7 separate regions of the Homo sapiens genome follow, and regions 2, 3, 4, 5, 6 and 7 are each reported to be linked to region 1. Evidence: microRNA targets listed by miRTarBase, many of them from high-throughput screens and not tested one by one. Region 1 holds a microRNA gene; each other region holds the end of a gene's coding sequence.
What was found. Region 1 holds the annotated microRNA hsa-miR-4635 (UCUUGAAGUCAGAACCCGCAA, at 1,468-1,488, shown strand). A microRNA usually pairs through its seed, bases 2 to 8, with sites in the 3' UTR of a target mRNA and lowers its output. Matches are read on the target gene's strand: a 7mer-m8 pairs with bases 2 to 8, a 7mer-A1 pairs with bases 2 to 7 and ends in A, and an 8mer does both.

Region 2: the mRNA of ZNF517 is a reported target of hsa-miR-4635. Seed matches in the 3' UTR shown: 7mer-A1 at 1,778-1,784.
Region 3: the mRNA of NEK7 is a reported target of hsa-miR-4635. Seed matches in the 3' UTR shown: 7mer-m8 at 2,296-2,302.
Region 4: the mRNA of AGPS is a reported target of hsa-miR-4635. The part of its 3' UTR that is shown has no 7-base or 8-base seed match.
Region 5: the mRNA of GPR107 is a reported target of hsa-miR-4635. Seed matches in the 3' UTR shown: 7mer-m8 at 2,711-2,717 and 7mer-A1 at 3,431-3,437.
Region 6: the mRNA of MTR is a reported target of hsa-miR-4635. Seed matches in the 3' UTR shown: 8mer at 1,826-1,833 and 7mer-A1 at 1,952-1,958.
Region 7: miRTarBase lists NCOA4 as a target of hsa-miR-4635. Seed matches in the 3' UTR shown: 7mer-A1 at 1,230-1,236.

What each region holds. Positions count from the first base shown.
Region 1 is chr5:1,060,325-1,064,391 of GRCh38, reverse strand. MIR4635 (microRNA 4635) reads left to right here and starts at 1,418; the gene lies at 1,418-1,496. SLC12A7 (solute carrier family 12 member 7) reads left to right here. Exons shown (of 24, transcript NM_006598.3): 19 at 140-309; 20 at 417-548; 21 at 3,941-4,048.
Region 2 is chr8:144,808,070-144,812,136 of GRCh38, forward strand. ZNF517 (zinc finger protein 517) reads left to right here. Exons shown (of 5, transcript NM_213605.3): 5 at 1-2,015. The coding sequence ends at 326. LOC100130027 (a long non-coding RNA gene) reads right to left here. Exons shown (of 5, transcript NR_147501.1): 5 at 741-3,007. Among named protein-coding and RNA genes, the nearest start is that of ZNF517, 11 kb to the left of the region's middle.
Region 3 is chr1:198,318,723-198,322,789 of GRCh38, reverse strand. It overlaps NEK7 (NIMA related kinase 7), which reads right to left. Exons shown (of 10, transcript NM_133494.3): 10 at 370-3,378. The coding sequence ends at 3,268. Among named protein-coding and RNA genes, the nearest start is that of NEK7, 160 kb to the right of the region's middle.
Region 4 is chr2:177,537,870-177,541,936 of GRCh38, forward strand. AGPS (alkylglycerone phosphate synthase) reads left to right here. Exons shown (of 20, transcript NM_003659.4): 20 at 205-4,067. The coding sequence ends at 326. Among named protein-coding and RNA genes, the nearest start is that of IFT70B, 13 kb to the right of the region's middle.
Region 5 is chr9:130,134,814-130,138,880 of GRCh38, forward strand. GPR107 (G protein-coupled receptor 107) reads left to right here. Exons shown (of 18, transcript NM_020960.5): 18 at 212-4,067. The coding sequence ends at 308. Among named protein-coding and RNA genes, the nearest start is that of GPRACR, 7.4 kb to the right of the region's middle.
Region 6 is chr1:236,897,144-236,901,210 of GRCh38, forward strand. It overlaps MTR (5-methyltetrahydrofolate-homocysteine methyltransferase), which reads left to right. Exons shown (of 33, transcript NM_000254.3): 33 at 415-4,067. The coding sequence ends at 501. Among named protein-coding and RNA genes, the nearest start is that of MTR, 100 kb to the left of the region's middle.
Region 7 is chr10:46,003,062-46,007,128 of GRCh38, reverse strand. NCOA4 (nuclear receptor coactivator 4) reads left to right here. Exons shown (of 10, transcript NM_001145263.2): 10 at 532-2,041. The coding sequence ends at 537. It overlaps TIMM23 (translocase of inner mitochondrial membrane 23), which reads right to left. Exons shown (of 7, transcript NM_006327.4): 7 at 3,387-3,926. The coding sequence ends at 3,811. Among named protein-coding and RNA genes, the nearest start is that of SNORA74C-1, 20 kb to the right of the region's middle.

The sequences.
Region 1 (4,067 bases):
TGACGGAGTGAGGGTGGGGGCTTTGTGGGGACCCCCCTCGCCTCGCCGTGCCCGCCCCTGCACTGGCTGTGAGTCCCCGGGGAGGCCCCTTCCGCACCCTGGCCTCAGATGACCTGCGGACGGCCGCCTCTCTCCGCAGACACCGTCCGCGACACCACCGCCGCGCACCAGGCTCTGCTGGTGGCCAAGAACGTCGACTCGTTTCCGCAAAACCAGGAGCGCTTCGGCGGGGGCCACATCGACGTGTGGTGGATCGTGCACGACGGCGGCATGCTCATGCTGCTGCCCTTCCTGCTGCGCCAGCACAAGGTGGGGCGTGCGACGGGGACACGCCAGCCGGAGCACGGCCACCCCACGTGCTGCGGGCCGGGACGGGCTCCTCTGAGGCCCCACAGCCATGCCCTCCCTGTCTGCAGGTGTGGAGGAAGTGCCGGATGCGTATCTTCACCGTGGCCCAGGTGGACGACAACAGCATCCAGATGAAGAAGGACCTGCAGATGTTCTTGTACCACTTGCGCATCAGCGCCGAGGTGGAGGTGGTGGAGATGGTGAGTCCCGAGGGCTTGAGGGGAGGAGGCCGGGGGGAGGTGGGGAGGAGGTGGGGGGCGGCCCGGGAGGGCTGTGGGCCTCGTGAGGTGGGGGTGGAGGGGGAAGTGGAGATCGGGAGGGCTGTGGCCTCGTGAGGTGGGGGTGGAGGGGGAAGTGGAGATCGGGAGGGCTGTGGCCTCGTGAGGTGGGGGTGGAGGGGGAGATCAGGAGGTGGAGGTGGAGGTGGGGAGGAGAAGGTGGTGGCGATTGTGGCGGGGGCTGCCAGGCCTTGCGGGGTGGTCAAGGAGGCTTGGTTTTGGAATCGCCAGGACATCACAGAAAGCACAGAGCCCCGTGTGTTGCTTGTGGACACCTCGTGTAACACGGGTGTGGGTGTTGCCCTAGAGCCGGCATCAGCATCTCCGTGTCCTCCATGGTCCCGTGTCCTCCTCGGCCCGGGACCCCGTCCAGGACCTCACACCTCAGTGGTGTTGCCATGGTGGGTGCACCTCTGAGCACCTCCCGTTTTGGGTGCTCTCCCCAGATGGGCTCACCTTCCCACGGCTGGAAACCACACATCAGCAGTCGGGACCCGGGGAGAGGGGCACTGGTCAGTGAGGCCAGGCTGCAGCTGTCACGTGGGACAGACAGGCCCTCGGTCAGCTATAGGCAGGGCCTGGACAGAGACTCGTCCCGTCCTTCACGCCTGGAGAGGACGGGGTTGATGGGCGGAGGCCTGGCATTGGAGCGCTTGCCCCCGGCCCCCAAGCATGGAGCTCTGGATCCTGGGGATCTGGTGGGCCCCTTGTGCTGGATGGAACCATGCCTGCTCGCTACCAGCCCACCCGGATCCACGGCTGTGCCTTCCCCTCCGGTCCTGCTGGCGGTCCCGGGACTTTGTGGGTTCTGACCCCACTTGGATCACGCCGACAACACTGGTCTTGAAGTCAGAACCCGCAAAGTCCTGGTTTCTTCCGGCTCCCGTGACCCCAGCGCATGGTTTTGCAGGTCCTCAGGGGCCTGGACTCCTGGAGGTGGGTGCTGGGAAGACATAAAGCTGGATAGAGACTGTCACGCTGTCCCCCAGGAAGCCACCTGTGCCCCTGCAGCAGCCTGGGAGGTGCGGTCTCTCCAGCCCCGCAGCCCCCCAGTCCCCCAGTCCCTCAGTCCCCCAGCCCCCCAGCCCCCCAGCCCTGGGTATGGCAGAGGCCCCGAGCACCTGCTCCTGGTTTGTGTCGGGCTGTGAGTGAGGCCAGGCACGGCTTCGTGCCTCACCGACAACCTTCTGTGTTTCTGTGTCAGTTCCCGTGGAACTCAGTTGTCCTGTGGGGTTGTTCTTCCTCTTGCCCTGCAGGACCTTTCCTAGGCCGAGGGCTGCAGGCCTGCGTGACGCTGGATGGTTTTCTGCCCAGTTTTGTACACTGGGCTTAGTTTCCATGTGGCTGTGTCTTCGGGGACGATGGCTGGAGTTTGTCTTGTTTGGACGAGGCTTTGCGGGTTCAAGGTTGTAGGGGTTATTATTGGTGCTAATAGTCGTATGAATAACGTTATTTCCAAGTCATAAAACCGCTTAGTAAAATAGTAACAAAATGCTGCCTGGGAGAACCAGCCCTGCCAGGGGGCCAGGTGGGGCGGCCACTGGGGCCCAGAGGAAACAGGCAAAGTGAGCCCATGGCCCCAGCCGCACCCCCAGCCCCTCCGTGGTGCCAGAAGCAGCTCCCCAGCTCCTGAGCAGGGGTTGTTAGCTCTGAAGTCCGGGAACCTGGAGCTCCCAGCACCCCCCATGCTCCCAGCCATGTCTCTGGCAGGGCTGGGGCTGCCCACCCCTCCGTAGCCCTGGCCGCAGGGACAAGTGCCACCTGGCTGGAGAGGGGCGTCTGGGTCGCTGCCATTCAGTCTGGCATGCTGTTTATTTTTTTAAAAAAAGTTTTGAGACAGAGTCTCGCTCTGTCCCCAAGGCTGGAACCTCCACCTCCTGGGTTCAGGCAATTCTCCTGCCTCAGCCTCCTGAGTAGCTGGGACTACAGGTACACGTCACCATACCTGGCTAATTTTTTTTTTTTTCTTTGTATTTTTAGTAGCAATGGGGTTTCACCATGATGGCCAGGCTGGTCTCGAACTTCTGACCTCAGGTGATCCACCCGCCTCGGCCTCCCAAAGTGTTGGGATGACAGGTGTGAGCCACCGCACCTGATCTGGTGTGCTGTTTTAAATACTGGTGCTTAACAGGCACAGCTGCTCCCAACTCCCATGAGCCGGGTGCGGCGGGTGAGACACAGGGATCCCGCACGGCGGGTGCGGTGGGTGAGACGCAGGGGTCCCGCATGGCGGATGCGGCAGGTGCGGCGGGTGCGGCGGGTGAGACTCAGGGATCCCGCACGGCGGGTGCGGCGGGTGAGACTCAGGGATCCCGCACGGCGGGTGCGGTGGGTGAGACGCAGGGGTCCCGCATGGCGGATGCGGCAGGTACGGCGGGTGCGGCGGGTGAGACTCAGGGATCCCGCACGGCGGGTGCGGCGGGTGAGACTCAGGGATCCCGCACGGCGGGTGCGGCGGGTGAGACTCAGGGATCCTGCACGGCAGGTGCGGTGGGTGAGACGCAGGGGTTCCGCATGGCGGATGCGGCAGGTACGGCGGGTGCGGTGGGTGAGACGCAGGGATCCCGCACGGCGGGTGCGGTGGGTGAGACGCAGGGGTCCCGCACGGCGGGTGCGGCGGGTGAGACGCAGGGGTCCCGCACGGCGGGTGCGGTGGGTGAGACGCAGGGGTTCCGCATGGCGGATGCGGCAGGTGCGGCGGGTGCGGCGGGTGAGACTCAGGGATCCCGCACGGCGGGTGCGGCGGGTGAGACTCAGGGATCCTGCACGGCAGGTGCAGTGGGTGAGACGCAGCAGTCCCACACTGTGGATGTTCCGGGTGAGGCGCAGGGGTCCCGCACGGTGGGTGCAATGGGTGAGACCCAGGGTCCTGCATGGCGGGCGCTGAGGTTGTGCTGTGGCTTCTCCATGTGTTCTGGGTGGGTTTCCCATGGTGCCAAGCCCCCCTGAGCATAGACAATGACACCTGTGAGCGTGGATCATGCAGCCCCATGGGGCAGTGCCTCGCCCTGAGCCGTGTGTGCCAGGTTGGTTTGTGGCTGTGGCCTTGCCCTCACAGCTGCCCTTGTGCCCGGTCGGAGGGTCCCGGGGAGGGACATGAGCAGAGCGTGTGTGCGGCGTGACTGCCCATCGTGCGCTCACACCTTCCTGGCCACTGGGCGGGGGGCCTGAGAGCCAGAGGGGGCCTGTGGGGCCCGGGACGCGTGGCCTTTCCCACCGCTCAGGGCGGCTCGGTCTCTGGGTACCGGGCTGGTGTTGGAGCCATCCGTGGTTCTGTGCACACCGGGCTTACTACGTGCTTGGGAACTTTCTAGGTTGAAAACGACATATCTGCTTTCACCTACGAGAGGACACTAATGATGGAGCAGAGGTCGCAGATGCTGAAGCAGATGCAGCTGTCCAAGAACGAGCAGGAGCGAGAGGTACGTGGGGGCCGTGGCC
Region 2 (4,067 bases), not on the chromosome of region 1:
TGCACCTGCGCCTACACACGGGCGAGAAGCCGTTCGAGTGCGCGGAGTGCGGCAAGGCCTTCGGTCGCAAGTCCAACCTCACTCTGCACCAGAAGATCCACACCAAGGAGAAGCCCTTCGCGTGCACCGAGTGCGGCAAGGCGTTCCGCAGGAGCTACACGCTGAACGAGCACTACCGGCTCCACAGCGGCGAGAGGCCATACCGGTGCCGCGCCTGCGGGAGGGCCTGCAGCCGGCTGTCCACCCTCATCCAGCACCAGAAGGTGCACGGCCGCGAGCCCGGGGAGGACACAGAGGGCAGGCGGGCGCCCTGTTGGGCTTCCTGATGACGGGGACGACAGGCCGAGGATTCACGCTGGAAGCCCACCCAAGCCGGCGGGGCCCTAGCGCAGAAATTCAGAACCCCCTGTCCTGAAGGTGAAGCAAAGTCTAAAGAAAGGGCCAGCTCCCATCAGGAGCTCGGCTTCTTGCTCCAGCCGGGCACTGGGGAGGGAAAGGGCACCAGGCAGCCCGTGGTGTGGCCTCAGGAACCACTATCAGCCACCATTTCCTGGGGCCTTCCGGAAATGTCCAGGAGCGGGCAGAAGGGAGAGAGGGAGGGGCAGCTATGCTCAGTCCCCAAAGAGCAGGGCACAGGGGGCGCCACAGACGCATATGCAGCTGAGCTCCCCACAGGCCGGCCCGGGTCTTCGTGCAGAACCATTGGGCACAGCCAGGCCTTAGCGCCAGGCTCCGTGTGGCGGTCAATTCCAGGTGCTGTAAAGCCGACTAACAGGGTACAGGGAGCCTTAGCTGGCTGCCATGTCTCCTGCCTGTAATCCCATCACTTTGGGAGGCTGAGGTGGGAGGTTTGCTTAAGCCCAGGAGTTTGAGACCAGCTTGGGCAACATGGTGAAACTTCTCTACAAAAAATTTAAAAATAAGTCAGGTATCGTGGTCTGTGCCTGTACGCTGTAGTCCCAGCTACTCAGGAGGCTGAGGTGGGAGGATGGGTTGAGCCTGGGAAGTCAAGGCTGCAGTGAGCTATGATAGCACCACGGCACTCCAACCTGGTTGACAGAGTGACACCCTGTTTAAAAAAAAAAAGCCTAGATGGCTGGTGGAGCTCTATCTATCTATCTATCTATCTATCTCTTTTTTTGAGGCAGGATCTCTCTGTCAGCCAGCCTGGAGTGCAATGGCACAATCATGGCTTACTGCAGCCTCCAGCTCCCAGGCTCAAGCGTTTCTCCCACCTTAGCCTCCTGAGTAGCTGGGACTAAGGCACACACACTGTACTTGGCAGCTGGCGAAGCATTGTTTCTGAGTGTGTGAGGATGTTTTCAGTGGACTCAGTGAAGATCTGCCCTCAGCGTGGGCAGGCACATCCACTTGGTTGGGGACCCAGATGGAACACAAAGGGAGAAGACAAGCAAATTCTCTTTTCTGGAGGGAGACACCCATCTCCTGCCCTTGGACATCAGGACTCCAGGTTCTTCGGCCTTTGGACTCAGGCTTGCCACAGAGGCCTCCCAGGGCTCTCGGCCAGTCAGCCTCAGAATGAGAGTTACACCACTGGCTTCCTTGGTTCAACCACCTTCTTACCTGGACTGAGCCTCACTTACAGCTTCTCTAGGTCTCCAGCTTGCAGACAGCCTATGGGAGGACTTCTCAGCCTCCATAAGTGTGTGGGCCAGTTCGCCTAATAAATCCCCTCTCCTGGCCGGGCGCGGTAGCTCTCCCCTGTAATCTCAGCATTTTGGGAGGCAGAGGTAGGTGGATCACCTGAGGTCAGGAGTTCAAGACCAGCCTGGCCAACATGGTGAGACCCCCGTCTCTACTAAAAGTACAAAAAGTAGCTGGGTGTGGTGCTGGGTGCCTGTAATCCCAGCTACTCGGGAGGCTGAAGCAGGAGAATCACTTCAACCTGGGAGGTAGAGGTTGCAGTGAGCCGAGATCGAGCCACTGCACTCCAGCCTGGGTGACAGGGCAAGACTCTGTCTCAAACAAATAAAAATCCCCTCTCCTAAACTCCATTATTGGTTTTGTCTCTCTAGAGGACCCTAATACACTGCCCAGCAGAAGCCAGGAAGGAAGCCCTGCCAGCTCAGAAGGTGGGCCAGGAGAGAAGGGTGTGGCCGGAAGGGTAGCCGGTGGGGGTGCTGCATCCTCTTGGCCCCACGGGGAGCACCCTGTCACCCCTAACAGATGAAGAGAAGGTGAGGGGGGATTGAGTTACCTGCCCACTGGTGTGTCAAACTCCATGATGGGGGTGGGAACATGCAGACCTGGCCCCTCCAAGGCCCACTGCTCCCCGGGCTGTGCGCCCCACAGTCTGTGCCAGGGGCTGCAGAAAGAGCCATGGGAAGCCTGGCCCTGGTAGGGCACCAAGATGGGGAGGGCTGGATCCACCCTCCAGAGAACAAGAATCCTGGGCAGTAGCCGGGACATGGTGGGGGAGGCTGAAGGGTTGTCCCTGAGCATCCCCAACATGGAGCTCGGAAGTCTGGGCCATGGGCAGGAAAGCACGAAGGTCAGGGCCAGCCTGGGGAACCAAGAGCTGTGCCACGATCCCTTCCACCTGGGGCAGCTGCCCACATGCCCGCCACTGGGTTCCATCACCTGAGACTCCTGGCAGGTGCCTCTCTGAGTCTTTGTCCTGTGCTGGAAACTGGGATGTGCAGCACACATCTTCACACCCACAGCACGGACAGCGGGAATAACACTTCCTTTGGGGATCCAGGGTTTCTGGTGTCTCCAGATTTTTCAGGCGCCACCATGTTCCTCTCATCCAGACGTCAGCACCCAAGGTGGAAGCAGGTCATGGCATGCCCGGCCCAGCTGCAGTCCGAGTGCAGATCCCATGGCGAGCGTGGGATCCAGCCCAAAGCACAAGCCACGCACAGCCCGCCAGGTTGAGTGGGCAGGTACCTCCAACAGCCAGCCCAGGTTGAGTGGGCAGGTACCTCCAACAGCCTGGAGCCGTGAGGCCTTGCGCAGGGGCGTTGCCGGCCGTGGAGGTCTCTGGCTGGCAAAGTGGCACCGAAAGAGTCCTGTGTCATAACCAGACTCACTTGTAGCTTCTGTTGCTCTCCCTAGCTATTTGCAAAGCATCCAGGATAGGTTCATCTAAAGACATTCTGACTCATCTTGGACACGATCCACTTACTCTGTGGACCCTGTTCACAGAACCTGGAGTCCCTGCTCACCTTCCCCAACCCCTTATTGCTGGGTCATGTTCACAAGTTTCTGTCTCTTTTTGTTCCCAGTCCCGGTACCAGCTCAGGTCCAATCAGCTTCTGAACCTCTACTGTGCAGCGCCTGAGACAGGGTGGGAGAGACACCGACAGTAAAGCTCAGCCAGGTGCAGACTGCAGCCTGGAAGCAAAGGCTGAGACAGGGTGGGAGAGACACCGACAGTAAAGCTCAGCCAGGTGCAGACTGCAGCCTGGAAGCAAAGGCTGAGACAGGGTGGGAGAGACACCGACAGTAAAGCTCAGCCAGGTGCAGACTGCAGCCTGGAAGCAAAGGCTGAGACAGGGTGGGAGAGACACGGACAGTAAAGCTCAGCCAGGTGCAGACTGCAGAATGGAAGCAAAGGCTGAGACAGAGTGGGAGAGACACCGACAGTAAAGCTCAGCCAGGTGCAGACTGCAGCGTGGAAGCAAAGGCTGAGACAGGGTGGGAGAGACACGGACAGTACGCTCAGCCAGGTGCAGACTGCAGCCTGGAAGCAAAGGCTGAGACAGGGTGGGAGAGACACGGACAGTAAAGCTCAGCCAGGTGCAGACTGCAGAATGGAAGCAAAGGCTGAGACAGGGTGGGAGAGACACGGACAGTAAAGCTCAGCCAGGTGCAGACTGCAGCCTGGAAGCAAAGGCTGAGACAGGGTGGGAGAGACACGGACAGTAAAGCTCAGCCAGGTGCAGACTGCAGAATGGAAGCAAAGGCTGAGACAGAGTGGGAGAGACACCGACAGTAAAGCTCAGCCAGGTGCAGACTGCAGAATGGAAGCAAAGGCTGAGACAGGGTGGGAGAGACACCGACAGTAAAGCTCAGCCAGGTGCAGACTGCAGCCTGGAAGCAAA
Region 3 (4,067 bases), not on the chromosome of region 1:
TTATGTGTGGCCCAAGACAATTCTTCTTCCAATGTGGCCCAGGGAAGCCAAAAGATTGGACACCCCTGCTCTAAAGATTCAAAGCAGTAAGATTAATATTCCTTTTTTTTTTTTTTTACCTTTTAGAAAACGTTTCTCATTCAAAAACAGAAAATGATGTCCTGAAGATGTCCTTAGTTTAATGCATGTTGATAAAACTACTTTTTAGGATTTGTGTAATCTCTGTTATCACCCTTGTCTATTCCAATTCTTAAGCTTCTCCAAAATGGCAAAGTTATGAAAATGCGTAAGAACTGTTTCTGTACATTAAGTATTAAGTAAAATAAAAAATGGAAGACTTTAGGGGAAAAAATCATAGATACCCAGACATTTTACTGTATTCATTTTTATTTTTATATTTTTGTTTATATTAGGATATTATACAATTTTCAAAGCTAATAACAGAAATCTTTTTGTATGTATATTTAAAGCATAACAAAATAAAAGTATTTCACAAAAGATGTCCATATTACAGTACTATTGAAATATGAGGCACAGGGTAAGTATGCATTTGTGGGTTAAAAACATAATACATTCATTTTAAAGAATAAACATTTAATGTGAGTAACATTTTGGTTAAAATAAATATCATAGTAAATGTTAACAGCAACACCTGAAGTATATGGATACAAGAAAGGTGTTTTGTAATAGATACTATGTTGAATGGTAAAGCATTCATGAAATGGCTGTAATATCTTACTAAATTTACAATCATTGCACATTGTTGAGCACTTTATTTATATAGAGATACCCTTCATCCACCATTCCTAAACCTTACCATACAAAACAAAGTTACTCCATATTTTCACCTGGGTAACTGGTACCAATGTCTAAATAAGGTTTAGAATAGATATAGCTTTCATTTTACTGCTCCTCAAATCAATTCAAAAGTTTAACTTAATCAATATAAAATTTACTTATGAACACATATAAAGAACATTTTATAGGTGACTATATAAATTAGAGCTTCAAATCATCTTCATAGTTCTTTGAAATTATTCCATTCAAAATTAAAATTTGATTTTTACACAGTGGTTTCTTCAGGAAAAATATGAACATTTAGATTTAAAAAGATACAATATTCGAAGCAAAAAGTTTCCACATATAGAAATAATGAATTTCCCTGATCATTAAATTCTTCCCAGCTATTTCCTTCTAGCAGATATATTCACTGAGAAGAAAAGCTTTAATCTTTACTTAAAAGTTACTTTGAGGGGTCAAGCTAATGAATTTTAGATCTATGTATTCTTAAAGATTGCAAGAAAAAAAAGAGAGTATCTGTTCCAACCAGAGAACATTTCATCTCAATTATATTACATTAAAATGAACATGACATTAATGGTCAATAAGAATAATTCTTCTCATACTTCTAGGAATATATCTATGGATGCTCAGTATAAATGTTAAAAGTCATTAAGAGTGTGAGAAAAAAAATGCATCTAGCCCTCAGGAAAAACAAACAAAACAGGTTTCCTTTACCTATTCCAAAATAAAATTACCCTTCAGAAACCATACATAACTGATTAGATTTCAGAAAACAAGGGTTCAGACTTTTTGCCCTTTATACATTTTTTAAGTTTACAAATGCTTGAAAGCATTCAAATGAGTGTAAGAAAAACACATATGAAAAACAAAACCAGCAGTTACATCGGCTAAAGGGAAGTGTTCTTTGAACATGAGGTTTTCACGTTGGCAGGATAATTCATCCAAGGTTGTAAGATGGCACAGAGTCCTTTAACAGTGACTTCCTCTTGGCCTTCAGGCTTCACAATTCTGTGAGAAACTGGTCGCCACTAATACGAAAGCATTCAGGGAAAACACATCTGCACAACAGCATTTACGAAATTCTGCCCATTTCCTTAAGCTACACGAAGTGTTACCATCTCAGTCATCTTCATGAACAAATACAGTACTTTACTCAAAAGCTTCTCAATAGAAATGTTAATCTCATAACAGTTCTGGCTGTAGTCATGGCCAGTTTTCATTTTATTAAGCATATTCTAGAATTACAACCTTGTCAAATAAATTGTAACTGTATCAACATTCACAGGTACAGTATAACACACATCCTTTCTTCCTCTTTAACAAGACCAAACATATGCATACAGAGTGGCCCAAATTTTAAAAAGTTTAAAAAAAGTTTTCAATCCAGGAAAAGTATTGGTATACCAAATATCTTTTAAAAGGGTATTATACTCTCAGAAAGTATGAAACATTAATGGATAAAATGCACATACAATATAAATAAGAAAGTAACTTGAAGAATAATATAAAAAAATTTCTGAAGGGGACCGATCAGAACTTCAATAAAACTTATGAATAAAAACTTAGGCTTATATTATAGTGTACAATTATGAGTTAAAATGCACTTAAATTTATAAAGAAATTGAAATATAGTACTGCAAGGTTATTCAAAGAATATTTTTCAAATGTACAAACAACAATAAAAACACACAAAAAAAGCCTTGGGCAATGTGCAACTTTAAAAATTATTATCACACCAGCTAAACAAATCCTTAACCACTTTTTAAATGGATTCATTTATACCATTTCAATGCAAAGAGAATATCAAAAATATTAAAACAAAACAAAAAACTCTTCAGTGTCTGACTCACATTTTGTCCCCAAATCTTCACATTTAATAGTTACATTTTGAATGTATAAGCTAAGAGTTCTAAATGTTTCTCAAATAGTTTGTGTCTACATTTATCATAAGAATCATATTTGAAAACTACTCTGCTAAGAACTAAAACTAGTACTTCAAACGTTTAAAAATAAAATCTTCACAAAAGTTCACAATTGTGTTCATCTCAATGTCCATAAATTACTAAAAAAGAAACAAGTCACATGTTCAGATACTTTTTCTCAGGTATGAGTCTATTCTGATGTGTGCCAAGCTGCACCTTCAATATTTGGCACTGACAGTCTATCTAAACACAATTTATCAGCAGAAAACTGTAAGAAATTCTATAAACCTTTAGCCATTCAAAACCATCATGTTTCATTTTCTCTCCTAACATGCAATTCAGTTATTCCAAAGTCATTTGGGGGTTGCAAGGAGGTGATTTAGGTGACTGGTACAAAATGAAGCTTATATGAAAACTGGTTAAGGATTCAAAGCACACTAGCTCTGAAATATTAATCTTAACACCAGACATAAATGGGGAGGTATGACTTGCACAAAATACTTTCAATTACTTTGGTTACACTCTTCATGATCTTGCATGTTTAGCTGCTTGCAGTGCATGCATGCATCCTCTTTGCTACGTCATAAACATAGGTGACGTCTGGTCGCTTCTCTGGATCTGGGTTGATGCACATATTAACTAACTGTCGGAGCTGTGAAGAAAGAAAAACAATAAAACCTGATTAAGACAACTATTTTTGGTTAGTTTACTGAGAGGAAGAAATTATGAATAGCTATAGATTTTACAAGGAAAGTACATTTTCTGACTAAACATTCACTGTACTAGAAATATATATAAGACTGCTGCCAATGATCTTACAATAAGTTAAATGTTCTATGAAGTGCATTGAATGGACAGTATTAATGTCAACCAAGAAGTATTTTCCACAATCAGAGGCTTTAAAATGGACTCTCTTAATTTTTCAGAGTTTAATCAGAAGATAGCAGTCACTGAGGACACTAGTCTTATAACTATAAGTCTCCAAGTTAACTGTAAATACACACATACATATTTGATCTAGAATCTACTACAACAGACTTAATTGTAAGTTTAAATGGAAGGCAATTAGAGTTGACATACATTTATAATGAACCATTTTGTACAAATATATATTAAAAGTTTTATGTTAAATTTTGTATTAGAGAAAAAAACACTCCTTTAAACTAATTATAATAAATTATATGGGAAGTTATAAGTGTTATTCCAATCCTCAATTGTGTACACAGTATTTAAATGTCCTCACTTTATAGATGAGAGAGTTGAGGTTTACTATTTTATTCTATTTATATCATAGAATAAAAGCAGATTTCAATAAATTAAGAAACTACCCTCCTATATGGT
Region 4 (4,067 bases), not on the chromosome of region 1:
GTGGAGCACAGACTTCCCCTGGGAATACATTGGGCTTAATGAGCTTGATAGTCTGGTGGGCTCAATAAATCAAATAAAGCAAAACATTTCTCATTTTTGAATAAAAGCATTTATCACACAGTGTTTGTTCACTCATGGTCACAAGATTGATTGGTTCCCAGTATCATAGCATATATTGAAGCATTTTTGATTTTGTTTTTCCAGTGGGCAAGTTACGGAAGCAATGGCTAAAGGAAAGTATCTCTGATGTCGGCTTTGGGATGCTGAAGTCTGTCAAGGAATATGTGGACCCCAATAACATCTTTGGAAACAGAAACCTTTTATAAATCCATTAGTACCATTACAAAAAAATGTCAATTTTTTTTTTAAGTTTTCAACTGTGGTTATACTAGTAATCAAATATATCATGGACTATATTTTGGATACATTTGTTTCTTTGGTTTAAAATAAGTTTGTTTTCATTCTGTAGTTTGTTTTGTTTCTACATCTATGGATTGACAGATAGTATTCCTAAATCTCTCTCATTGTAGGTACATCATTTTACATTCAGCGGTTGTCATTTCAAATTTTAGTCAGGCAGCACAAAGCTGTCAATTATTCCAGAGGAAGCTGCTGCCAGCTGTTTTGTATTGTTGCTTCCTCTTGGGGAACAAAGACAGATTTGGTATCATTGATTGCTCAGCTAGCCTCTTTTTAAAAGAACGTTTCTGGGAATCAGATGTCTAGGGAAGGATTCCACTGAGGAGTGATACACGTGTACATTGTTTAAGAGCATAGTCTAGTGTGAGTAGGCCATTAAGGGGAAGGATATTCATGAAAGAATTTAGGCAACCTGTTATTTAGAAAGCCTTCACGTCTGTAAGGTGCTTGGCCTACTTTTTTTTTTAAATTAGTATACATGCATAAAACCTTGTATCATCAATATACAAATTATTCTGTTAGGGGACATGTTTTTGTTCTCCATGTTTCTGTTTCTATTGTGGTATGAGTTGTATTTGTATCACTGAGATAACCTATTGTTATATTCTAATTCATTGATAATATGTTTTGTAAGAAAAGCTGACATCCTTCATTGCAAGTGAAGAACAGGTTTACCATGAAATGAATGCCTTTATTCAACTTAGAGTCCTAATGTTTCTGATTTCACATTCTTGTTGCTGAAATGCAGAAGAAACAGCTACAGCAAGAGCAGAAGGAAAACTCTTAGACTTAATGTCTCCAATTGCAAGAATTGTTTCACTAAAGAAACAGTCATCATTCAACTACTGAATTTGAAAGCCTCAGCAGTTTCAATGACAAAAATCATTTTTGATTTTTTAAAATTAATCCCAATGGCATGATAAATTTTCATATAAAAAGTAAAGTTTCAATTTAGTTTTTAATAATGGTTTAATGCCTTTTTTGAATAACTGGTTTAACCTAATTTTTTTTAAATGTAATGTATTAATGCATATACCATAATCAAAAGTTTGAAATATCCTGTTTCTTAAATAATGAGAACATTAATCACATTTAGCAAGCATTTGTACATTCAAACCTGGATATTAAAGTGAAATGATTACTTTGAATCACTGTCTGCCAAGGTTCATGATTCACATTTTGAGATGGATTCTTTTCTTAATGCAATACCTAACTTTTGATAATTTTTTAAAACTAATATTTGATCAGATAATGTAAGTCAAAATGCAGACGATCCTTTAAAAGGATGCATTGTCTGTGTATGTAGCAACAGCTCCAAAGTATTTTTGGGCAGTTTGATACCTTTTATATCTGAAGTAGCCTTAACCAGAAAAATGGTAATTTAAAATTGACAAAATGATATTTTTAAGACTTCAAAATGATAAATAATTTTTAACTATTAAAATTGGCCTCAAACTAATAAATCTGTAATTAAATTAGAATTAAATATCAGTTTAACAACAAAATGAAATATTTATTTTTTAGAAGCTGCCTCTCTTCATTGGTCATTTATTTTTAATTATAAAATTTCCAACAGATCTTTGCTTTAAGCCCTTGATATTTGACCTAGTTGGACACTTGATGAGGAAGTTGCCTCTAGAATTATAAAAATCTCAGCTTTATAAAATGCATCTGTTCACGAAGGTAATTTCTTTAATTGGTGATCAAAATATAAAATTAAGGTACTAATGTCTCACTGGAAGTATATATATATATATATATATATGTATGCATGTGTGTGTGTGTATATATATATATATATATATGTATATGTTTCTGAGTAATTTTTAAAAAATAAAACAGGTTAATAAGAAGATCCATTCCTTTGCATGTGATTGTTATAACATTCTTTCCCAGGGAGTTCAATTTCAGCAACCTCAGAAATCCATACTTGATATTAGGAAACTGTAAATGTAACACCTGAAATTATTATGTTCACTATTCTACATGAACCTTATGGAAATTCATGATTTATGTCTTTGTTTTTCTTTTTCCAAGTATATGCAGGACTCCCCAACCTTGATTTTATAATGGTGACTGCATTTTGTAGGTGGAATCATTTCTACCGAAATCATTTTGAAACACAAGAATATTGATCAGTACTGTTTCACTCTGATTTAGTAAATCAGAAAGCCTCCCCCTACCCCCAGCCCCCACTTTCACATACCTTCTGGGAGGTGCCTCAGTATAGACTTGGTATCTGTGAAGGACTGAGTTCATGAATATGCACAGAAGCACTTAAACCATGCCTCTTATTTCTATAATATCTGAAAATGGCTTCATAAAAGTTAAGTCAGGAGAACACTGTTTACATGACACTTCTTAACTCATTTTTAATGTTTATTTTTAATTTCAAAAACTTGTTGCCTATTTGGTTTTCAGTACTGCATAACACTGACTTTCTTAAATTAGTCATAGTTGCAATAATTTACTTAAATTTGGTAATGTCACATTTGGGTTGGGGTTTCAGTGGGAATAGTAACTTGCCGCTAGTGAGAAATGGCATTGAATACTAAAGACTCAATATGAACAGGCTTTATAGACCCTTAGAGAAACTGTTGCCTTAATGTTTGGTGCAATTTCTAGTAGTGCATAAGTGAATTTAGTCTTATGATAAGTAACTTTGAGCTGTTTTTAGCTTAGTAAGAATTGTGGAAACCACATGTTTATTGTGCCCATCATTTTACACAAAGAAAAGAGGATTATATTATTTCTTCTAAGGAAGTAGGAGTTTTCTTCCTAAAAGTGCTTACATATTGTAGTACTATTACTTAAAAGTTATTTATGAAGTTGGGAGCCTTCTAGTTTGCCTGTGTTGATGTATTTTGAAAACAAAATTGCAATAAAGGATGAGCTTCCATCGGTGTGTATGGTATACCAGATACAGATGGTTGCAAGGAAACCTTTTCCCCCACTAGAATAGTCTATTAGTAACTGCTAAGTCCTAGCTTGCATTTTTGAAAATGCCTTTCTGCATGTTAGCACCCAGACTTTCCTTTGTCATATTCCTTTATAGCTACAACTTAACTGTAGCTTATCAGAGAAGCTCTGTAGTCCTACACTGAAGTGTGTTCCCTTGGCTGTTCATATGGGGCTGGGTTTGGTTGAACTTCCATTCTGTATAAATGCTAGAACACAGTTACTACAGATTGATTCACAAACTGCATGTGCTGGTGCTTGAGGCAGCCAAAATGGAATGCTGTGGAAAGCATATCTATATCTTAAAAAACACTCAGACAGGAGTTAAGGACAGCTTTAATAATTTTTTTGTTTACCACTTAATCTTTATCAACTTTGATTTTAGTTAGGGCTTAGCTCATGGTTGAAGAAAAGTGGAAAATAACAAGTGCCCATTTAGGTTTGAAGAATCCAGAATGTTTTACCTTTGACTTTATGAGTTATAGAAGCTTGGCTTTGCTCTAGGCTTCATGTTCCCAAATGAGCCATCTGTCAGTATATTCACTTAATTCTTACTAATTTCAGTTTCCTGTAAAGGAAACAACTTACATATTGATGCTTAAATCCAGAAAGTGTAAAAGGTTTTCTTAAACTGTTAAAATATAGTGTCTGATATAAAGGATGTAAGTTACTCAGCTTTCTGCTCCCTA
Region 5 (4,067 bases), not on the chromosome of region 1:
TGGAAAGTGAGAATTACTTAAGCACAGAGAGTTCAAGTGACTTGGCCAAGGTTACACAGCTAGTAAGGAACGAACCAGGAATCACACTTAGATTTTGTCTGTTTCAAAAACCAACACCCATCATCAGTCCTAATCACCGTGCTGTGGCAGAGATGGCCTTTTACTAAGAGACTGTGAGATGTTCCTAATTGTTTTTTCTTTCCTTGTTCAGTGTGACAACATCTGGGGTGATGGAAAGTATGAAGAAAGTCAAGAAGGTGACCAACGGCTCCGTGGAGCCCCAGGGCGAGTGGGAAGGCGCCGTGTGACAGAGCCGACCCTGAGGATGGCACTGTCCAAGGAAACTGTTAACTTATTCATAGTCCTATTGGACAGCAGGAGCAGCTCCTACAGTGAACTATTGGCACCACCGACAGTGACACCAGGGCACATGGCTGGAGCACAGTGCCGCGGAAACCTGATTTTGTACTCTCTTTTATGGAAACGATCTGTGGCTGTTTAGAGGCAGCTGGATCCTCTTTCAGGCGGGAATGGGAGGGCGGGCACAGGGAGGAGGAGAGGAAGAGAAAAGGAAGAATTCATTTTTAATTTAGGTTTCTTTTTTTCTTCTTCATTTCGGAGCTCTAAGGTGTATGCAGTTGTGACCCCATGTGTGGGGAAGTGTAGCAAGGACGGCTGGTGGAGGGGGAAGGAGGGTGCGAGGTGTCTGTCTGATGCTTTAGGAAATGTCTACTGAGGACCCTGGGACTTAAGAAGAAGGGCGGGGAGAGTGCCATTGCCTGTTTGGGAGACAAAAATGAACGAAAACAGGTGACTTTGGAAAGCAAAGTCAAAACCCAGTTTAGGATGTAGCACCTGCCCCAGGATTCCTGCCCTCGGCTTTGCCCCAGACCCTTATTCCAGATGCTGAGAGTGACCAGGACAGCAGCTCCTGAGGCCCAGTGGTCTTCTTTCCAACAGGAAAAGAAGGCTGTGATGTCGCTGTCAGGATCATGCCCTGTGGCACAGCACAGGTGGTGGGAGGTGGTTTTCTGACTGAGATGTTGCCTGATGGATGGAAAGAAATGTATTTTTAAGTTCAAAAAGCATTATCCTGTGGCGTTGCCTGGACATCCACTCCCTGACAGCCCAGAGCAGCACTGTCTGGCTTCCCTTCATGCTTGTGGCTTTGTTGTGTTTGATCAGAATTTTGGGGGAAATGGAAAGTTTTCCTCAAGGAGCAGCTGGGGGCAGAATAGGTAGTATTTAAGCAAATACTTAAGTCCAAGCAAATCATCCCCATTAAAAAGCTTTTCCTGTAGGCTAGTAGGATTTCTAAATAGATGAATTCAACAGACTTGGTCCCCATAGTCCAAGAGTATGTATGTGAAGAAAGTGAGCATGATTCAACAGTTTCACTCTCAGGGATTTTAGGATGGCAAAATACTTCACAGAAACTCAATGATTAAGTTCCCTTCCACACTTCCAGAGCTTGAATGAACACAGGTAGCCACCTAAATTGAGCAGTATTGCAACTCAGAGAGAAAATCATCTGAATAGTAGGACAAGCTCAGAAGGTACATTGTGACTGAGGGCTTAAAAGGAGACCAAAACATGGCCCCATCAGGGAAGCTTCTTAATGCTTGGGGGGCCAGCTAGGTAGGGTTGCTTCCAAAAGCTGGAGCCCACCCCTGCCTAGGGGTTGTCAGAGAGCCACACCTGCAGGGGAACAGGTACCTCCGAGGGTGAGAGTCGTGGTCTCTGGGAGTTGTTTTCTCACCTCTGGCTTAGAAGGGTCAGGCAGAAACCACAGGATGTGGGGTCACACTCACTGTCCCAAGTTTGGGAACCTGAAAAAGTCTCCATTCAGAACATGGTTGTTCTCCCTGTCCCATGCTATCTTATCTTCCTAAATGACTAATGAGGAAGCGGGTGTTCTTTTTCTGCACTTTGATTCGCCATCTGGGTTCTGTAGGGTGCTCTGAAGGTGTGATCTGCCTTCTGGCTGATGTGGAGGAAGAGCAAGCGCCTTCCCAGGCCACAGCTGCTCACCTCTCGGCAGATATTTTAGGCAAGCATCCGTGTGTCTTCCCATCTTCAGGAGAAAGGTAAATGCACCCTAAGTGTTCACTTCTGGACCTTTTTCAAGTTCACTTGGGACTGTGTGACAGAAGGGAGTTGGAGGGAGGATGGGAATATTTTTAACACTTTGTTTTCCTGTGCAGAAACATAATACCAGTTTTCGCAGAAATGTGTCTCAATCTGTGACTACCAAAGCCCTCCTCAGTCCTTCCCTCAGAGGGACACATTTGCTGTTTCTCCCGCAAGCAGATGTTGTGGATGAGGCGATAGACTCCTTGGCAAGAACGAAAGGTGTGATGAAACCTCCCTGCTCGGAAGGGTCTCCGTGGAGGTGTCCTCATTTCACATGCTGGGTTTTGCAAGCGAGGAAGCCAGGCAGTGGAGGAACTAGAGAGAGGCAGGCGTGTGTGTGGACAAGCGCTGGAGCCGCAGCCCTCAGACTGGCACGGGAACGCCAGCGTTGGGTGTTCAGATTCCACGCGTATGTCTGGGCTCACTCACAGCATGGCCGAGTGTCTGCAGTGCTGGTCCTGACCCTTCCAGAGCAGCAGTGGACAGATGAGATAAGACTGTTTCAGAAACAAAGATGGCCACAGCCTTCCTAACAAGCAGGTCATCTGGCCATGTCTGTATTGTAACTGGTAAAAGGCTTCAAGTCAGATTGATGATCAAGAAAAGTCAAAACCCCAGCCCAAGATTGGGAAAGCAGGTGGTGGTTCCAAGCTTTTAAAAAATTATTGAAGCTCTCCATCCTGTTCTGTGAGTGTGTCTTCTCTTTCTCCTTCACGTCATAGCCGTGACCCACCGTTCATCTCTGCTCTTGCGTAAAGATGACCGATGGAGTCCAAAGCCAAGTGGCTTCACCAGCTGACAAGCCACCCTCCTGCAGCCTGAGTTTCACAGTCCACTGGGTTCGTTGTCATGCGGTGTTTGAATGGTTAAGCCCTTGCAGTATTTCAGATCGGGCAAAAAATATCGGATGCACATAGCAGAACCATTGGTGGTATTTATAGCTTTGCTTTGTACTCCTCACTGTTTCTGCCTACGCAAAATATCCATGTTTCCTCTGAGAAATCTGTTGTGGACTGAAAGCGCTGCTGGCTGTGAAATTTAATAAAGTGTGTATGCTTTGCTAGAAAATTATTTCTTGGACAATAGGAACAGTCATTGATCTGTAAATCCTGGCTCTTAACAGTGAGTGGCCAAGGACTTGATCAGCCCATTTCTTGGTCCCTCAGTGCTTTAAAATTTAAGTAGCACTGCATTTTGTAATGTTGAATATGACTCTAGTGACTTGTAGGAGGCACTTGTGAGGAGATGCTTGCTTCAGTGTAAAAGATGCTCATGGCCTGAGTCAGTTGAGTTTTCTTTCAAGAAACCACTTCAGAGTGAAATATCCAGGGTTTCCCCGCCCTGGACATGTCCAGCCTGCCCAGGCAGCACACAGCCCTGTAAGTCCACCTCGTGTGGGTGAGATTTCCTCCTGCGTGATGACCTCATCGCCATCTCTGCTGTCTCATTCCACAGCCTCCCTCCCTCTTCTCTCCTCCTCTGCCCTCGCCCTTCCCCCTTCCCCATCCCCTCCCCCTCCTCCTCTGCCCTCGCCCTTACCCCTCCCCCTTCCCCTTCCGCTCCTCCTCCCTCCTCCACCTCTTTCTCCTCCTCCTTCCCTCCTCCTCCCTCCTCTTCCCTTCTCTGCCATCTTTCTCCCCGTGCCTATTGATCCCACATAGGCTCATTCTGGGTACACCGGCTAAAGGCTTTGGTGCATTGCAGCGTTTTCTCCCAGCAGCTGTGTGAAAGATGCATTTTCTAAGCTAAGGAGAATTTTCTCAAGAGTGGCATACTCATGCCAAATATTATTGCTCTGGGCCATATAGGCTGGTCTTCCTCCACACTAAAATGGGTGTCTTGTTTTGGTACTTAAAACAGTCTACTCCAGGCATCCAGTCCTTACAGACCAAGGAAGAGCATAGCGATGCCTGTTGGAATTGCAGATGCATTCT
Region 6 (4,067 bases), not on the chromosome of region 1:
GGCTTGCCTAGTTCAAATGAAATTCTAGAACCTCTCTCATTTTAAATGTGAATGAGAATAAAGTGAGGGGAAAGGATGAAGAAATTTACTCCAGTTAATGTCTTAATTTGATTTCAATAGAATACCTCTATTCTAGCCCTCACTTCTACATGCAAGCCACACACACGCACACACACACACACACACACACACACACACACATACAGCTTCTAAGCATCAGATGTTTACTACATGTTTTTCTGCCCAGAGAAAAAGGCAACTTGGTAGATAAATATCTATCTCCATTTAACTCTGTAGATTGCTATTAAGACAAGAAATGCAAGGTACTTAATGTTTCTTGGCAAATCTTGTGGAAACTTCTATTCCAAAAGTCTTATCATGTTGGTTTAATAAAATGCTTCTCATCTTTTGCAGGTTGAGGATTATGCATTGAGGAAGAACATATCTGTGGCTGAGGTTGAGAAATGGCTTGGACCCATTTTGGGATATGATACAGACTAACTTTTTTTTTTTTTTTGCCTTTTTTATTCTTGATGATCCTCAAGGAAATACAACCTAGGGTGCCTTAAAAATAACAACAACAAAAAACCTGTGTGCATCTGGCTGACACTTACCTGCTTCTGGTTTTCGAAGACTATTTAGTGGAACCTTGTAGAGGAGCAGGGTCTTCCTGCAGTGCCTGGAAAACAGGCGCTGTTTTTTTGGGACCTTGCGTGAAGAGCAGTGAGCAGGGTTCCTGTGGTTTCCCTGGTCCCTCTGAGATGGGGACAGACTGAAGACAGAGGTCGTTTGATTTCAAAGCAAGTCAACCTGCTTTTTTCTGTTTTTACAGTGGAATCTAGGAGGCCACTTAGTCGTCTTTTTTTCCTCTTAGAAGAAAAGCCTGAAACTGAGTTGAATAGAGAAGTGTGACCCTGTGACAAAATGATACTGTGAGAAATGGGGCATTTTAATCTAAGTGGTTATAACAGTGGATTCTGACGGGGAAGGTGTAGCTCTGTTCTCTTCGGAAGACCTCGTTTTCTAAAGGCTGGACTAAATGGCTGCAGAACTCCCTTTGGCAAAAGGCATGCGCTCACTGCTTGCTTGTCAGAAACACTGAAGCCATTTGCCCCAGTGTGGTCAAGCAGCCATGCTTTCTGGGCATTTTCGTCCTCCCATAATTTCATATTTCCGTACCCCTGAGGAAACAAAAAGGAAATGAGGAGAGAAAGTTACTGTTAAGGGTGGTTAACATTTTTTTTGTTTTGTTTTGTTTTGGTTTTTTTTTTTTTGAGACAGAGTCTGGCTCTGTCGCCCAGGCTGGAGTGCAGGGGCGCAATCTCGGCTCATAGCAAGCTCCGCCTCCTGGGTTCATGCCATTCTCCTGCCTCAGCCTCCAGAGTAGCTGGGACTACAGGTGCCCGCCACCACACCCGGCTAATTTTTTGTGTTTTTACAAAATACAAAAAAGTAGAGACAGGATTTCACTGTGTTAGCCAGGATGGTCTTGATCTCCCGACCTCGTGATCTGCCCACCTCAGCCTCCCAAAATGCTGGGATTACAGGCGTGAGCCACCGAGCCTGGCCGGTTAACATCTTTTAATTGTTTCCAGGATTGAGCAGGTTCTCAGCTGGGCTCTGATATCCCGTGCGGAGTTGGACAAGTGGGCAGCATAAAGTCACTCATTTCTTACCATTTTATTCCCCTCAATTCTCAATATATTCAGTAATGAAGAATGGTGCCACCACTCAAGCAACAAGCCTCAAACTCAACCATGTCATCTTTTTCTTGGATGATTGCAGTTATTTCAAAAATTTGCATGCAAAATATACACTCATCCTACTTCAAGATGGTGGTGGCAATAGTCAGGAGAAGGTAACATTGGAGTCCTGGTTTGATTCGAAGGATGAAGACGAAGAAGCAAGGGAGGAACAAATGAAGAACCATCTTTGTTCATGAATAGGAATATTCAAGATTATAAAGGTATCAGGTCTCCTAAAATTGATCTATGGATTTAATACCATTTTCAATGGAAATTCCAACAGATTTTATTGAATGAAACAAGCAGGTGTTTATATGGAGTAGCAAAGGACTTAAAATTACCAAATGCTTCTAAATATGAAGGAGAGGTTGGGGACACGCACCCTATGTGATACCAAGTTTTATTGTCAAGACAGTGTCATGGTGCAGAGGTAGGCATTCTGAGCAGGGGAACAAAATAAGGGCCTAGAAACTCACCCGTGCATATGTTGACCTTTGCAAAATGACCTGGTGACATGGCAAGTCAGTGGGGACAGGAAGGACCACTCCCTAAGTAATCCCAGAACAATGGCTATTCATGTGGGAAAAAAAGAAATTTTACTTTCTCTCACCTTACCTGGTGATAAGTTCCAAATATGTTAAGGGCTTTAATACAAAAAGCAAAAATTGTCAGTGTTTGGATGAAAAAAGCCTTAGGGCAGGAAAGAATCTCTTGAGACATAAAGTAGTAATCATAAAGGACAAGATGGTTAAGTCAATTCTGTTAAAACTCAAGGCTTATATTAAGCAAACACTTGAAGTGAGAAGATGATCCACAACTTGAGAAGACATTTATAATACAAATAACTGATGAAGGATTCATAATCACAAATATAGAGAATTCCTATTTAAAAAAATAGAAAAATAGTGAAGACTACACAAGAGGAAATAGGGCTTTTAAATAAATAGATGTTCTGTAGCATTGGTCAGGGAAATATGAATTAGGACCACAATGAGATTCCATTTTATATCCATAAGATTTGCAAAGGTTGGGTCTGACAGTACCAGTTGTTAGATCTGTAGGGACTTGTACAACATTGTGGATGTGTAAACAGGCACCACTGCTTTAAAAAACAATTATCCCTTACAGACTTGAACATTTGCAGACGTTATGATCTTGCTTCCAACTCCCACCTGTATGTCCAGCAAACTCTTGCATGTGGCCACTAGGAGGAATGTGTAAGAATGTTCATAGTTACATATTTATAATAGTTAATAACTGGAAAAAGTGAAATGTATGTCTGTCTACAGGAAAATAGGTGAATAATTAGATATATATATTCATTCTACGGGATATTATTCAGTAGTGGAAATGAGTGAACTACAGCTATACCTCACAATAAGAATGAATCTCAGAAAATATTAAGGAAAAAAGCAAGTTTGAAGAGACCACATGGGGCGTACTATTTTTATTGAGCCCAAAAACAAGCAAAACCAAAGAATATGTAGTCTAAGCATACGTATACAATAAAACTATGCTATTAAAAAAAAAGAAGGTAACTGATAAACCAAAATTGAGCATAGTAATTACCCACAGAAGGAGGAAGTGGAAGGGACAGGAGCACATAGGTAGATGCCAAGTTATGCAGCTGTTCTGGTTCCTCCTGGTAGGCTTACAAGTGTTTACTATATGCTATTAATACATTATACTTTATAACTAATAGATAACAGTTTTTTACATATTAAATATGTTCTACTTAAATATATTATAAAAAATAAAGGCAAAGTGGAATGATAACCTAAAATCTGGTATGGTGATTTTGTAGGTAATGTTTGTATATGTCAAATACAGTTTTTAAGGAAAGGAAGAACATCTTAGGGTAAACAGCAGCTAGAAAGGTGAGGGGCAGGAGAGTGGTGCATCCTTGCTGCTGCCAGCAGTGCCCAGATACCAGGCTTTGGGGAATGAGTGGATGGCTGGACCATTTGCTAAGACAGAGGCCAGGGGATGGGAGAAATGATGAGTTTTGGAAAGATTCGATGTGACTAGACTGAATATAGGCAGTTGGATACTAGACTTTGGAATTTAAAAAGAATGTCTGGAGTTAGAATTGAGAGACTTGAACGTGGAGATGGAGGTCAGGCTGCAGTGCGATGGGATCATCTATGGAGCATATGAGGAGAAGAGAATCTGGAGGAGGAGGAGGGGGAGCCAGCAGGGGAGCAGCTGTGGGTTGGAGGAAGCCAGGAGGGAGAGTGCAATGCCGAGAAAGCAATGAAGAGCGTTTCGAAGCATGCCAGCAGAACCCAATGCTGCAAAGAGGCCTGGGAATGGGATTGCTGA
Region 7 (4,067 bases), not on the chromosome of region 1:
AGTAGCACCTCTAGTTTTTTTCAAGAACTTTTCAGCCAGAGAATGAGAAGCTGAAAAACAACAAAAAACTTTGCTTTTGTGCTCACAGCTTGGCTGGTCCAAAAGGCCTGCCCAGCTTTCAGCCTCTCGTGGCCTTCAACATGACTTTCTCGCTAAGTTTAATCATTTCTGGCTTTTGATTTAAAGAAGAGTGAGAGATGGGGACTATTCCTTTTAGTTGAACACTTAGATGCAATTGTAGGGTTAATAATTGGCCTAATTTCAATCTTGTTTTGTCTCAGGGAACAGGGAGGCCTGAGGAGAGAGAAGAGAAATAGGGAAAGGCTGTTTGGTGGGCATTCAGGACATTTATTGATGAAAAGTTTACCATCTTTAATGGGCATAGTTCATGACACAAATGCTTAATTTGTAAAAAATACAATGTAACAAGGGTATACCTGTATTGGGAAATGAGTCGGAGCTTTAAGGCAGGGAAAATTTGCTTTTATTCTTCATTGAAGTAACTTATCATCTGTGGGTGTCTCTTTACAGATGTGAAGGAATGGACAAGAGTTGAGCAGCCTTTCTGCTGATTATCACACATCATGAGCTGAGTGACTGCAGCTTGCCAAATCTTTGTGTTTCTGGGTCTGACCAATTAGCTTAGTTCTTCTCCTGCCTAATTTTGAACTAGTAAAGCAAAGTGAGTCATCAGATTATGAGTTACTGTTTAAAAGAAAAATGCTGTTTATTCATGCTGAGGTGATTCAGTTCCCTCCTTCTTACAGAAGTATTTTAATTCACCCCACACTAGAAATGCAGCATCTTTGTGGACGTCTTTTTCACAAGCCTCCAAGGCTCCTTAGATTGGGTCGTTACTAAAAGTACATTAAAACACTCTTGTTTATCGAAGTATATTGATGTATTCTAAAGCTAGTAAACTTCCCTAACGTTTAATTGCCCTACAGATGCTTCTCTTGCTGTGGGTTTTCTTTTGTTAGTGGTCTGAAATAATTATTTTCCTGTTCTATTAATACATAGTGTATTTTGCACAAAAAAATTAACCTGGTCAATAGTGATTACCAAAATATATATTAATAATCTTGGCAATTTTTGACATTAATTATGAAACATTTTAGCCCACGTTAGTTCTACATTATTCTTCACTTAAACTCAGCTACTGCAAATTTTGTCTTTCTGTAAATGTTATTAAAATATCCAGTGAGCTCTTTAGAAGGACTCAGTATTATTTCAAGACTATTTTTGAGGTAATTCTAGCCTTTTAAAATATTCTACAGACCTACGGGGCTTAAAAGAACCCCAGTACCGACTAAGCAAATAGGCAAAAGACATGTTGGAAATGTAGTATAGTACTTGAAACAGTCACTATCATAGGGATAATTGGTGCATCCTGTGTAAATGGAAGCTGAGCTTGACACCTGGTGCTTTTAAGTAGGGATAAAGTCATCCTCTCACTGCAAGCACAGCATACCTGTACCTCCAAAAGTGACGTTTTAGTGAACAGGCCGTTTTCAACACTTGTGCCTTGGGGTGTTCATTGAAGCTTTGTGAAAACTACTGATGTTTTCTCAGTCTCCTTAAAGTTACGTCCATGCTTTAAAATGTCTGTGTAGGAGAGAAGTGGGGTTTATAATGTTTTCTCTAAGATATCTTTGCTGCTTTCCAGACTTTGAAACTATTAAGCTTCTTAACTGCCTCTTACCGGAAATACTTCTGGGGAAACTTCATGGTCCCAAAATGTCATTGCCATACAGCTTCACTAGAGTTCTTTGAACCACAGCTGAAAAGAGCTTTGTATTATTTTTTAATTCCCTCCCCAGATATCATTTAGGAGTATTATATAAAGGTGGTGGGCAAAAACAATGTAAGGAGCCTTTCCAGTTATCTTGAGTTGCAGCTCTGTAGTTTCTTGAGGCCAAACACACTGTATTTTACAAGTCAAAATATAATTTACATTAATCACTATGTTAATGAGTATGTAAAACATTCTTTTGCATTGATGAATTTTGTATCTGCTTCCATTAAAAGCATAACAGCCATAGTTGTTGCGTGTTATTTTTAAAACTATTTGTCACAAAGTGTGGTGTGGTACCACATAACGTGGTAACTTTTGGTTAGTAATCCAGCTGAGAAACAGCTTGAACATAAAAATAACATCAGTGTATTTTATGAAAAATTAGCAAACAATAGGTATATTAACCTCCATTTTCAGTCTTTTATAAAAACTATTCACATCTATTAAAAAAAAACCTATGGGACTTCAGCCAAGATTCAGTGCCTTTCTACTGGATTCCTCTTACTAGATGCATCCGAAGAGGCCCTAGTTTACTTTCTCCAATCATATAGCCACCAGGTATTTAATACAGTAATATTTATGTGTATAACCTGTAGTGCAATTATACATGATTAACTTCATATGGTGGATGAGAAAACAAACTCAGAAATTAAACAATTTGGCCTCATGTCCTTTAGTTTTCCCAAGGCTTCCTTGAAAAACATCTAGCTCTTGGCCAGGCACGGTCGCTCACGCCTGTAATCCCAGCACTCTGGGAGGCTAAGGCAGGTGGATCACCTGAGGTCAGGAGTTCGAGACCACCCTGACCAACATAGTAAACCCCGCCTCTACTAAAAATACAAAAATTAGCTGGGCATGGTGGCAAGTGCCTGTAATCCCAGCTACTTGGGAGACTGAGGCAGAATTACTTGAACCCGGGAGGTGTTCAAGTAATCTCAGCAGTGCGCTGAGATTGTACCACCGCACTCCAGCCTGGGGAACAGAGACCCTGTCTCAAAAAAAAAAAAAAAAAAAACCTAGCTCTTAATTATTCCTAGTAAGGTGTGAGTTAATATGTATGGAATGAAGCAGGATTGTTGGAAAGATTGTTCTAGCATACTAGTCTAACGGCTGACCTGAAATACCTTGAGGTGGTTTAGTACCAGCTCTATTGGTGAATGCCACCAGTAGCTCATTTCTTTTTTTGAAATGGAGTCTCACTCTGTCACCTGGGCTGGAGTGCAGTGGCATGATCTGGGCTCACTGCAACCTCCGCCTCCTGGGTTCAAGCGATTCTCCAGCCTCAACCTCCTGAGTAGCTGGGGTTACAGGTGCACACCCACCACACCCAGCTGATTTTTGTATTTTTAGTAGAGACAAGGTTTCACCATATTGGCCAGGCTGATTTTCAAACTCCTGACCTCAGGTGATCCACCTGCCTTGGCCTCCCAAAGTACAGGGATTACAGGCGTGAGCCACCACACCCGGCCACCAAGTAGCTCATTTTAACACAAACACGAAGATGTTGTTTTGCCCACTGGGACAAAAAATGCCAAGGGTACCTTTCACTTTATACCCAGGTAGATACTTTTAAATTGAGACAACCACTATGTTTGTGTGTTGGAGTTATAACTTTGGTTCTGTTTTTACCCTTTATTTGGAATACAGTGCAACATTACAGTTTTGGATCATTAAATGAATGGACTTGGTGATATAGTACTAACAAGCACGACCTGAATTCTGGGAGTAAGTGGTTTTCTAGTTCATGGGGGAGGAAAACAGATACGTGCAAGATCTCCAGAGGAGAACAGAACCATGGTACTCAGTGAGTCACCAAAGGGCTTTGGCTTCAACTCACTAATGGCTGGAACAAGTGCCAGTCTTGGTCAGCCATCCAGGATTTTCATCACAGCAAATCAAAATCTCCAATTTTTCAAACTAATTGTAGGTAGAAGAGAGAGAATAACTCCAAACTGTCTTATAAAAGGATCTAGATGACTACTGAAGTGTCCTCCATTCATGAGTTGGCAAAATCTTCAGAGTGACTGTTGGAGCAAGGAGCCTTTCATGTGCTCCCAGTTATTATATAGTGCATAGAGGCTGGTAAGTGTTAGTCCTGTCAGACCACCTCGTGCTATCCCTCGAAGACCACCTGGGAAACAGAGACAAAAGGAAAATGAAATAGCTGTATATTGCATAGTGCCCTAGCACGATAGGGTTAAATAAAAAGTACTGTGAAATGGGCTGGGCACGGTGGCTCAGGTAATCCCAGCACTTCGGGAGGCCGAGGTGG